3 separate regions of the Homo sapiens genome follow, and all the other regions are linked to region 1. Evidence: fine-mapped QTL for protein levels in blood plasma. A gene starts in region 1. Each other region holds a variant in brackets. All regions are shown on one strand. Distances are from middle to middle. Region 1 holds the start of RNASE4 (ribonuclease A family member 4). Region 2 overlaps RNASE4 (ribonuclease A family member 4). Region 3 overlaps RNASE4 (ribonuclease A family member 4).

Evidence for each region. PIP is the chance, under the fine-mapping model, that this variant and not a neighbour inherited with it causes the effect. Protein levels are from antibody-based Olink assays in UK Biobank. Linkage for the fine-mapping came from a reference panel and not from the study's own genotypes, which makes the PIPs less certain.
Region 2: its variant is fine-mapped to the plasma level of the RNASE4 protein (UK Biobank, PIP above 0.99).
Region 3: its variant is fine-mapped to the plasma level of the RNASE4 protein (UK Biobank, PIP above 0.99). The variant lies in the coding sequence of RNASE4. If it changes the protein, the assay may bind it differently, which can mimic a change of level.

The regions. Positions count from the first base shown.
Region 1 is chr14:20,682,285-20,686,529 of GRCh38, forward strand. It overlaps RNASE4 (ribonuclease A family member 4), which reads left to right and starts at 2,276. Exons shown (of 2, transcript NM_002937.5): 1 at 2,276-2,474. TRY-GTA5-5 (tRNA-Tyr (anticodon GTA) 5-5) reads left to right here and starts at 989; the gene lies at 989-1,077. It overlaps TRP-TGG3-2 (tRNA-Pro (anticodon TGG) 3-2), which reads left to right and starts at 1,732; the gene lies at 1,732-1,803. It also overlaps a transcript of ANG not described here. RefSeq lists enhancers at 658-967, 1,168-1,357, 1,498-1,627, 2,428-2,567 and silencers at 1,758-1,807, 2,078-2,197.
Region 2 is chr14:20,694,217-20,697,149 of GRCh38, forward strand. The region is part of intron 1 of RNASE4 (ribonuclease A family member 4); the gene reads left to right. The region is part of intron 3 of EGILA (EGFR interacting lncRNA); the gene reads right to left. Among named protein-coding and RNA genes, the nearest start is that of ANG, 6.9 kb to the left of the region's middle. The variant G/A (reference allele first, on the strand shown) is at 1,111.
Region 3 is chr14:20,697,888-20,702,132 of GRCh38, forward strand. RNASE4 (ribonuclease A family member 4) reads left to right here. Exons shown (of 2, transcript NM_002937.5): 2 at 1,468-3,329. The coding sequence starts at 1,485. The coding sequence ends at 1,928. EGILA (EGFR interacting lncRNA) reads right to left here. Exons shown (of 4, transcript NR_174964.1): 2 at 1,435-1,611; 3 at 1,149-1,242. Among named protein-coding and RNA genes, the nearest start is that of EGILA, 6.9 kb to the right of the region's middle. RefSeq lists a silencer at 1,764-1,929. The variant C/T (reference allele first, on the strand shown) is at 1,596.

The DNA of each region.
Region 1 (4,245 bases):
TTAACGCAGAGAAATGTGGCCTTCCTTTTGAATGAGCTGCAAATATTATCTCCAAAAGCGAATTCACACAGAAACATTGGGTTTGCCCAGATGTCCTCTATTTCAGGGGTTCCCAACCCTTGGGCCGCGCACCTGTCCATGGCCTGTTAGGGACCCGGCTGTACAGCAGGAGGTGAACTCCGGGCTAGCTACCAGTACCGCCTGAGCTCCGCCTCCTGTGAGATCAGTGGTGGCATTAGAATCTCACAGGAGCGCGAACCCTATTGGGAACTGCGCATGCCAGGGATCTAAACTGCACTCCTTATGAGAATCTAAGTGATGCCTGATGATCTGAGGTGGAACAGTTTCATCCCGAAACCATCCCCCAACTCTTCCCCCCGCCCCCGCGGTCCGTGGAAAAACTGTCTTCCACGAAACCGGTCCCTAGTGCCAAAAATGTTGGGGACCACTGCTCCATTCCACACCCTCTCCCTCCCGTGTCTGTGGACGTGTAAGCGGAAGAGCCGAGATTGGGAGGGAAGCGCAGGAAGTGAGGACATCAGGGAGCCCGGGCCTAAGCCTGGAGGCCCGCCCTCTCCGGCGTTCACAGTTGCGCAGTCAGAATTGTGTGCGTCCCACCGCCTCAGCCCCCAGTTCTCCGACGCCCAGGTGCCGGTCCCCACCCTACACACAAACACACGCATCCACGCTCGCGAGGCCCCTGGGTCCGCGCCCAGTGAGGCCAACAGCCCTCGGGCGCCCAGAGGATGAGCAGCCTCGGTATGCCCGAGTTTCAGGGGCGCCTGCTCTGCTTGGGAGCCCCTCAGTGAGGCAGGGGAATCCAGATTTAGAAAGGTTGTCCTCAGAACCTCGGACGCAGGACTGTCTTACAAGCTGGCTTTGTGACTCTGCAGTAATTACTTTCCGGGTATAAAGAGATTTCTTTCTTTCCCGTCTCTGGTTAAGGATGTCTCGAGTAGGGATTTTTAGGAGAGTTGTTTCCGTGCTTCCTTCGATAGCTCAGCTGGTAGAGCGGAGGACTGTAGTACTTAATGTGTGGTCATCCTTAGGTCGCTGGTTCGATTCCGGCTCGAAGGAGACGCTGCTGTTTTGGGGTTTACGGTTGCTCTTCGTTTGTGCAAAAAATCTCTGTATCTTGACGTGATCAAATCTGTTTCTGTCTCTCACCCTTGTCCGAAGGAAACAGCTTAGCCGCGAGGTGGGCTGCGTTAATCGCGTCTTGAAAAGTTGGTTACCTTTCTGAAAGATAGTAGACCCGAATCGTCCCACCGTTGGGGGAAGGCACTGTTGTCTTACCGAAGTGTGTTATATTTTGGCTTCTACGTTAAGTCCAAAGGCCGGCAGATATATACGTATCGCGCGTCTGTCCTGGGGCTCAGTACCCTACAGCCTTGCAACCGAGCTCAGCTCTGGCCCTCGATCTCTATTTCAGCCCCCTCCAGGTTCCCTCCAGGCCCTAGCGGGCTTAAATCGCTCCCCGGGCTCAGTGAGACACAAGCATGTGACCTAAAGTCTAAAAAGCTGCCTTCCTTCACCCCATCCTGCATCTGGATCGAGGAGAATAAGCCAGAGAATAAGCCACACTTGAAACTTGGTGAAGATGGAAGGAATAACTAAATAAGGCCTAAGGGAAATGTCACAACAGAGGAAAAGAAACAAAACAAAAAACCTTCAGAACAGCAGGCGGAAAAGAGAAATTCAGAGTGATAGGAAGCACCACTCAGCTACAGTGGCTCGTTGGTCTAGGGGTATGATTCTCGCTTTGGGTGCGAGAGGTCCCGGGTTCAAATCCCGGACGAGCCCTCGTGGCTACTGTTTTTCCACCCCCTTTTGTCAACTACTGAAAAAAAGTCTCCGTTAAATTTGAAACACAAACTGTCTCGCGATGGGCTGTCCTGCCAAAGAAAGCAGCAGCGAATAAGTACGTGGCAGATGGTGCTGTCGACCAGTGTCAAGACCAAGTTTCATGGGTTCCTGGACGCTCAGCCAGGGGTAGTCTCTGAAGGGCCGCCTGGCAATTGGGAGCAGAAGCCAGTTTCCCGCCATCTGCTCTCCGTGGAGGCAGTGCTCTCGCGGCTGCTGCCCGTTGGGGTCCAGCTGAGGAAGGAGCGCGGATCCCAGGCTCGTTCTTTGCCTGGGCTGCCCCTGCGGCCCCTGGGGCGGGTGCTGCTGCGGCGCCAGCTCCAAGGGCGGATCCAGGCGGGAGGGGCCTCCTCGGAGAAGCGGGGCGCGGTCCCAACTACGCAGAGGCTGGCACGCCGACCCTCCACACCTCACCACGCCCCCATCTCCGTCCGTGTACACACACTCACACAAGGACGCCAACCCCACCTAGATGCAAAGCAGGATTCAAAAGAACATCTTTGCGTTTTCTACCGGCTCCCCATCATCGTACTAGGGAGGAAGAAGCGGGTGAGAAACAAAACTTCTTTCCATTGTCCTGCCCGTTTCTGCGGACTTGTTCTGAGGCCGAGGTAGGTTCACACTCCTGCTCCTCCTCCTCCTCTCTGGTAGCTTCATAAGGGGCGTTTAGGCCGGGGAGTCCTTTCCTAGTAGAGGCAGCTTGGGACTCCTTGGGGAGGAGTTTGCGGGACGGGGCTGGAGAGGGAGGAATGGGGAGGGACGTGAAAGTCCCGTATTTGTATGAGTTAACGACTTTACATTCCCACTCAGGTTTACTTTGCGCAGCTGGGCACAGATGCCAGCTTCTATTGATTAGTAGGCTTGGAGGGGGACCACAGAATCGCCGAACCTAAGGGAAGCCCTAGGAGGCCTGCACTTGCCCACAACTAAGAAAGCTTTGCTAGTTATTCAGGCTAATCACCAGCTTTTTGAAGCAGGCCTTAGTTTTTTGCAAGCGTAACTAACATTTGGGGATCGGTGTTTTCTGTTTACTCTCCTCTGCCTCCTCACCCTTAACCCACCCTCAGCCAGTGTTGTGCAATTCTTAGAGACACTTGCCAACAGCCTCTTCTCTAAGCCTTCCTACTGGAAGGTTGGGATCCTCCGTTTTCTCGCTCTGAGACAGCACGTCAAATGCTAATAGCAGCACATGAGTAAAGCGCAACATCTTTATTAAAACAATTTCAGCACCACTCAGGGGGCTAGGGAAATCTCAGATGAGCCAAGACCCTCCCTCGTGACAGTAAAAATCTTATAATCAAGTCATAATGTAATCAGTAGAAACCCAAGGGACATCATTATCTGTGGCACAGGACCACCTTCCCAGAAGCAGCCTCAGGTATTCAAGACTTACTTAACCACAGAGCCACTAACAAGTTTTGCAAGAGGATAGGTTTATTACATACGCTTCAATTCAAGCAATTCTTTTACTGATGACAAGCAGAGTAAAATAATTTTTGAATTTATGGTAATAGTCAATGTAGGTTTCCTTCGAACAGCAACTTTCAGTGGCCCCTTTAAAGTTAGCTCTGATTGTCTAGAAAGTACTAGTATGGAATATAAAAGTTGTGTGGGCCCGGCACGGTGGCTCATGCCTGTAATCCCAGCACTTTGGGAGGCCGAGGTGGGTGCATCACAAGATCAGGAGTTCGAGACCAGCCTGGCCAAGATGGTGAAACCTCGTCTCTACTAAAAATACAAAAATTAGCCGGGCACGGTGGTGAGCACCTGTAACCCCAGCTACTCGGGAGGCTGAGACAGGAGACTCTCTTGAACCTGGGAGGCGGAGGTTACAGTGAACAGAGATTGCGTCACTGCACTCTAGCCTGGGTGACAGAGCAAGACTCCGTCTTAAAAAAAAAAAAAAAAAAAATTGTGTGGTGCATTGGAAAGCTTCCAGGCCGGCGAATGCAATGAGTTCCTTGGGCAATACATGTCTCTTTCTCTGTTCCTCAGTTGGCTCTTCTTTAATATGAGGGGTGGACAGAGTCTCAGAGGCCCCTCCCACTCTTGTTCTATGACTCCATGGAGTGGTACGATGTTAGTAACAGGACATGAGGCACTCTAGTAATGTGGAGATGAACTATCGTTTGGCAGAGAGGATGGAAAAAATCATTCCAGGAAAAGAGGAATGGCTTTAGCTATTGTTGAAAACAGATAATCAGGTTATAAGCAGGCAAGAGTAAGAGGTTTGTCAAGTTATTGTTGGAAGCATTGGTCACTGTGACTCAAATTAAAGTAGCTGGATAAAAAAGTGGACCAATGAAGGTCAGTGAAACCTTTCTTTAGGAGTTTTTATTGAATCTGTATTTAAGCAGATTCTCTGTAATTCTCTGTAAACAG
Region 2 (2,933 bases), 11 kb after region 1:
TGATCTTTCCCCCATTTTCTCTACTTGGCTGCTCCCTGAGAGGACTGCATAGGATAGAAATGCCTTTTTCTTTTCTTTTCGTTTTTTTTTTTTTTTTTTTTGAGATGGAGTCTCACTCTGTCGCCCAGGCTTAAGTGCAATGGCACAATCTCGGCTCACTGCAACCTCTCTCTCCTGGGTTCAAGTGATTCTCCTGCCTCAGCCTCCCAAATAGCTGAGATTACAGGCATGCACCACCACACCTGGCTAATTTTTGTGTTTTTAGTAGAGACAGGGTTTCACCGTTTTGGCCAGGTTGGTCTTGAACTCCTGACCTCGGGAGATCCGCCCACCTTGGCCTCTCAAAGTGCTGGGATTACAGGCATGAGCCACTGAGCCGGGCCACTTTTTCCTTATCAGTCAGTTTTTACAAGTCATTAGGGAGGTAGACTTTACCTCTCTGTGAAGGAAAGTATGGTATGTTGATCTACAGAGAGAGATGGAAAAATTCCAGGGCTCGTAGCTACTAAGCAGAATTTCCAAGATAGGCAAATTGTTTTTTCTGTCAAATAATAAGCTAATATTACTTCTACAAATATGAGACCTTGGAGAGAAGTTTCCAAGGACCAAGTACCAACATACCAACAGATTATTATAGTTTCTCTCACTCTTACACACACACACACACATATACACATATGTAATCCAGCATGAATACCAAAATTCATTCAGGGTAGCCACCTTTTGTCTTAAGCGAGAGATAATTTTGATGTTTGAATGGAATGCTCCCAGGATATTCTCTTGTCATGGTTATTTTATATAAAATTCAAAAACCAATTACATTATTTCCTCTGTAATCTTTTACTTTATCAACTAATGTCTGGCAAGTGTGATGTTTTGGGGAAGTTATAGAAGATTCCGGCCAGGCGCTGTGGCTCACGCCTGTAATCCAGCACTTTGGGAAGCTGAGGCGGACAGATCACGAGGTCAAGAGATCAAGACCATCCTGGACAACATGGTGAAACCTTGTCTCTACTAAAAATGTGAAAATTAGCTGGGCGTGGTGGCACACACCTATAGTCCCAGCTACTCGGGAGGCTGAGGCAGGAGAATCGCTTGAACCTAGGAGGC[G/A]GAGGTTGCACTGAGCCGAGATCACGCCACTGCACTCCAGCCTGGGCGACAGAGCGAGACTCCATCTCAAAAAAAAAAAAAAAAGAAAGATCCCAGTTTATCCCAGTTTATCCCTTATTCTTCCTCAATTCTCAAGATTTGTTTTTAAGTTAACATAACTTAGGTTAACACACTCTTTGTAAAATACACTGTTCAATCTACAGACTCAGTGGTTAGCTTCCTGTTAACTAATTTCTGTTGACAGGTACTTGGATATTTTATTTAGAAAGTGGTTGCCAATAAATTAGTTATAAGTCGCCAGTTTCACTGCCTTGTGAACACATAATTATTGTGGTCTCAGTATTCCCTATGGTGGCTTCTCCTGCTCCTGGTATTGCCCTGAAATGGGCCAAAAGCCGTGGCTCCCCAATACTCAGGTTATAGAACATTGTCCAGGTACCACCTAGGAGAGCCCAGCCTCACTGAAAGTATTCAAATTTAGGAATGGGTTTGAGAAGTAGGTAGCTGGTATGTGCTTAGCACAAGAATCTCTCTTCCTTGGGTTAGTCTGTTTCAAAACTGAAAACACTGTCATTCCTTAAGAAAATAGGAAAAAGTATTCCAAACCTCTGTCACTAGAAAATTTGCCATATTACCAAATCTCAAAAACCTCTCAGGAAATGAGAAAGTCCCAGTTTCTGGTAAACTATTTGGGCCCTTTTCTCAAGTTCTCCAACCAGTGCTATTTCCTTGAGGTGAGGCAAAGTTACTCAAGATCATCGCTGCCACTCAAGGCCTTGATAGGGCAAGTGAAAGGCATGGACCATTATTATATTGATCACAGCATAAGCTGTGAAAACCCACATCTTCTCCAAACATCTGCTTGGAGCATTATCATCGCATAGTTTGCTCTGGTGTTCAGGGAAATCGCTGTTTCATAGGAAATCACATGGCAGTGGGATGGGAGTGTTTCCTGACCTGCCGATGGTACTGGCACCTGAGCAAGCATTCCTAGTCCTTTTTGGTCTGGGCCTCTTGTTCTATCACAACCACAAGCTGTTTAAAATAAAACGTCAAGTCACAGGCAGGTCATTTTATCCTGCGTGAATCAATTGAAGAATTGAAGTCCTGGTCAGCTGTGATTGTTGGCTTTGCAAGGAAAAAGAAGGAACACTCCAAAATGCTAAATGCTTTGAAGAATAGTGACATGCAAGGAAGAAAATTCCATGCAATTTGGAGAAGAAACATTTTTCTAGGAATCTAGTAGCTGAGATATTTTATAGTTTAAAAACAGACTTCCAATATCTTGAGAATACAGTTAGCTCTACGAAATAAAGAGGAGTCAATAATATATGCAACTCTGTAGTCATTCATTATTTTATCCAGATTGACAGAAGCAGAGGAAACCAAGAAAAATGGAAGTGGTAAAAAAAAAAAAATGCAGTAATTGCCAATATTTACTGAGCATTTACCCTGTGCTAGGCCTTGTTATAGGCGCTTAGATTGATTTTCTTTTCATAACATCCCTAAGAGGTAGGTATTACATGCTCATTTTGCTTATGAGGAAATCTGCTGAGAGAGATTAAGTAATTTTCTCATGGTCACAGCCTCAGTCTTTTAGACCACGGTGTCAAAAGAAGTTCTTACTGTGAGTCAGGGTGGTGCAGTGGAGAAAGCGTTTGGGGAAAATCCTGACCCAAAAGTGTGCGTTGGGATGATGTGGAGATCATTCAATTTTCTCTTGTAGCTACAGCTTTGAGATGCACCCATTGGTATCCACACTGGCCTGCTGTCCTCAAATATTTCTCTATGTCTTGTTTACTTGAGTAGTGCAGAAAAGCTGA
Region 3 (4,245 bases), 16 kb after region 1:
CACAATTCACATCAATTCCAGGAGTGACGGCCAGATGGCAGCATCTGGCTAGTCAGTTGGTGAGTGAGTCCACCTCCAGTCTTGATTAAACTCTGCTGCTGGGAAGTAGCAATTCTGAGCATAAATGTCTTTGATATCCTGAATATTTTGGGTGTGGGATGAGAGAGGCAGTAGATAGTGGAAAGAGCACAGGGTGTAGACTAAGATAGGCCTGGATTCCTTTCTTTAATCTGTCAATGAAAGCAATGAATGTTCTGAAACTACATGGCAATGCTTTTTTTGTTGCCACTCTGGCTTTTTTTTTTAATGCTATAAAATATATGCCTATTTTTCACTGCCAAGAGGTGACAACACAATGATGCTGCAACCAGAGAAGACAGACAGCTACCAACAACTATTGACAAGACAGAAGGAACATCAAGAATAGATGCAAGACAAAGCAATGTATCTCCATGGCCTAGATTTTTTAGGTTATGCATAGAAACAGCAAGGAGAAGAAGACACAATCCAAGTTTTCTTTTGAGAATATTGTGCTGTTTAAATTTATTTTTTAAACATTTCTTAGCTTTTCTTATTAGTCAATTTCATAAGCCTGGGAAACATCTTTACTCTATCCATTTAATTGCATTTGTTCATTAGCTTACTCATTTCACTTATTAGTTCATTCAAACAGTAGCTATTATCAACTGTCTTCTAAGAACTGTAACTGGGTATTCTGGTTTTGCTTTTTTTTAAAAAATAGAATTAAAAGGATTTCCAAAAGGACCTGATTTTACATTAGAATTAGAATAATACATTTTAAATTAATGTATAACATATATTATTCTAGAATTAGAATAGATTTTAAATCACATTAGAATAATAGCCACATGACAAAAAAGAAAAGAAAAATAATAAAATTAATGACAAAGAAAAACAATAGTCATGTGAGAGGAAAGGCAAAGCCTAAATATTCCTCTGTCCTCTTCCTCCACCTAGATTCCCAGATGTAAGGTATTAAAAGTAGTTTGTAAACTTTCTGTGACGTATGCTGAGTCTATCCAAACTGTCGGGAATTGGAGCCTCCCGGGAACCAAACACTCCCCAAAGATCATACACCTACGGAGTTCCCCCAAGAGACACACAACTGCAGTTTCATGTAGGTTCACCTTTTCTCTCTTTTTATACTCTGTCCACACAAACCTGGCAGCCACGCAGTCAGTCCCTGCCCTGTGTCATTGTACTGGCCACAGCAACTTCTCTCTGTAAATGAGAAAGGTCTTGCTTTCAGAAAAGATCATGTTTGCAAACTACTCACTCTTGAGGAAGAAGGGTGGGAAAAGTAGCAGAGATGAGTGGGGAGATGGTGCATATAAGAAGGAGGAAAGAGGAGACTATGGAGTCAGGATGCCGGCTTGCTATTCTCAACACCTTTTTCCAGTGCCCAGTTCTTACCTTATTTCTCCTGCCCCTTGCTTTCTTTTCTAGGCACCTCTAAGATACTGATGGCTCTGCAGAGGACCCATTCATTGCTTCTGCTTTTGCTGCTGACCCTGCTGGGGCTGGGGCTGGTCCAGCCCTCCTATGGCCAGGATGGCATGTACCAGCGATTCCTG[C/T]GGCAACACGTGCACCCTGAGGAGACAGGTGGCAGTGATCGCTACTGCAACTTGATGATGCAAAGACGGAAGATGACTTTGTATCACTGCAAGCGCTTCAACACCTTCATCCATGAAGATATCTGGAACATTCGTAGTATCTGCAGCACCACCAATATCCAATGCAAGAACGGCAAGATGAACTGCCATGAGGGTGTAGTGAAGGTCACAGATTGCAGGGACACAGGAAGTTCCAGGGCACCCAACTGCAGATATCGGGCCATAGCGAGCACTAGACGTGTTGTCATTGCCTGTGAGGGTAACCCACAGGTGCCTGTGCACTTTGACGGTTAGATGCCACCATGTAGGGATTATCGCGAGTGGTTGACCTTACACTTACTCCTTAAATAGCAGTGAGTAATGCATTTGAGCTGTCCCAGGCTCTGTCTCCTCAGCTCATTTCCTACTCTTTTTCTCTATATAACTCATTCTATTAAATACATTGCACCAAAGAGATATGGAGACATAAACCTGTAATGAATGAGGCTGGGCTTTTCTGTAATAAGCTTCCTTTTATAATACTGGTCAGCTTAGCTCTCTCAGATCCTATCCTGTGGAATTTAGTTATTATGTGTATTTATGTAGTATTTCAAACATTTCAAAATGCTTTCATCTATGTTTATCACATTTTAATACCACAGCACTTATAATGATGTCACTACATATAGAAGCTCAAAGTTAAGGGATTTGCTGAAGACTGTAAAGTTAATGGAAGAATTGAGACAAAAATCCAGTGTAGCTGGCCACTTATCCAGGGCTTTTTCTACTTCATCACAAGGAATGTTTTGAAAGTGTCTGCTTTTTTTATCCTTAAAATTCACCTGTCAGGGAGGCATTAAAAATTTGGAAATGTATGCCAGCAAAATGTGAGCTCTGTATTTTTTGGCATTCTTATGTTTGGGTTTAATAAGATTAAGAAAATGATACTGGGAATTTTCTTTTTCCTGAAACTTTGAATCACCCTAGTAAGTCAAAGTACTAAAAAATGTACTAGATCATTAAGACTTATGTGCTCTTACTGATTGAAAGATTTTTTATGTTTTCCTTGTAATAAAGGACCTAAACCGAAGGTACCTGAGAAGACTGTGCTATGGTATTATTTTTTTTCTCTGACTTTTAAATTCTTGTTTAGTTTATAAACATGCATGCACCTTAATAACCTCATAAACTCTGGTCAAAGACTAATGCCTATCAGATCCATGACCACAACACAGAAGATTTGTCTCATTTACTCCAGAGAGAATGATTCCTCTCAAAGACAATTCTCACAGCTCTTCCTTCTCCCTTAGAATATTTAGAAGCAAATTAGGGAGCTGTCAGGTCTCTGAGCCCAAGCCTGCACGTATACATCCAGATGGCCTGAAGCAACTGAAGAACCACAAAAGAAGTGAAAATAACCAATTCCTGCCTTAACTGATGACATTCCACCACTGTGATTTGTTCCTGCCCCACCTTAACTGATCAATTAGCCTTGTGACATTCCTTCTCCTGGACAATTAGACTCAGGAGCTCCCCACCAGAGCACCTTGTGACCCCCGCCCCTGCCCGCTAGAGAATAACCCACTTTGACCGTAATTTCCCACTACCAACCCAAATCCTATAAAACTGCCCCACCCCATCTCCCTTTGCTGACTCCTTTTTTGGACTCAGTCTGCCTGCACCCAGGTGATTAAAAAGCTTTATTGCTCACACAAAGCCTGTTTGGTGGTCTCTTCACATGGACGCGTGTGGCATTTAGTGCCGAAGACCCAGAACAGGGGGACTCCTTCAGGAGACTGGTCCCCTGTCCTCGCCTTCACTCCATGAGGAGGTCCACCTATGACCTCAGGTCCTCAGACCAACCAGCCCAAGGAACATCTCACCCATTTCAAATTGGGTAAGCGGTCTTTTCACTGTCTTCTCCAGCCTCTCTTGCTACCCTTCAATCTCCCTGTCCTTCCAATTCCAGTTCTCTTTCCTCTCTAGTAGAGACAAAGGAGACGCATTTTATCCATGGACCCAAAACTCAGACACCAGTCACGGACTCGGGAAGATAGTCTTCCCTTGGCGTCTGATCATTGTGGGGATGCCTGCCCTGATCATTCACCCACATTCCATTGGTGTCTGATCACTGTGGGGACACCTGCCATGGTCATTCACCCACATTCCCTTGATGGCAAGTCAATCGCGGGATGCCTGCTTTGGCTGATCGTCCACGTTATAGCCCAGGGCTGCTCACCACCCCCTTTGCTGTGTCTCTACCTTTCTCTTTAAACTTACTTCTTCACTGTGGGCAACCTTCCACCCTGCATTCCCCCTTCTTCTCCCTTAGCCTGTGTTCTCAAGAACTTAAAACCTCTTCAACTCACACCTGACCTAAAACCTAAATGCCTTATTTTCTTCTGCAATACCGTTTGGCCCTAATACAAACCCAACAATGGTTCCAAATGGCCAGAAAACGGCACTTTTGATTTCTCCATCTTACAAGATCTAGATGATTTTTGTCGAAAAATGGGGAAATAGTCTGAGGTGCCTGACATCCAGGCATTCTTTTACACATCAGTCCCTCCCTAGTCTCTGCTCCCAATGTGACTTGTCCCAAATCTTTCTTCTTTCTCTCCTGTCTGTTTCT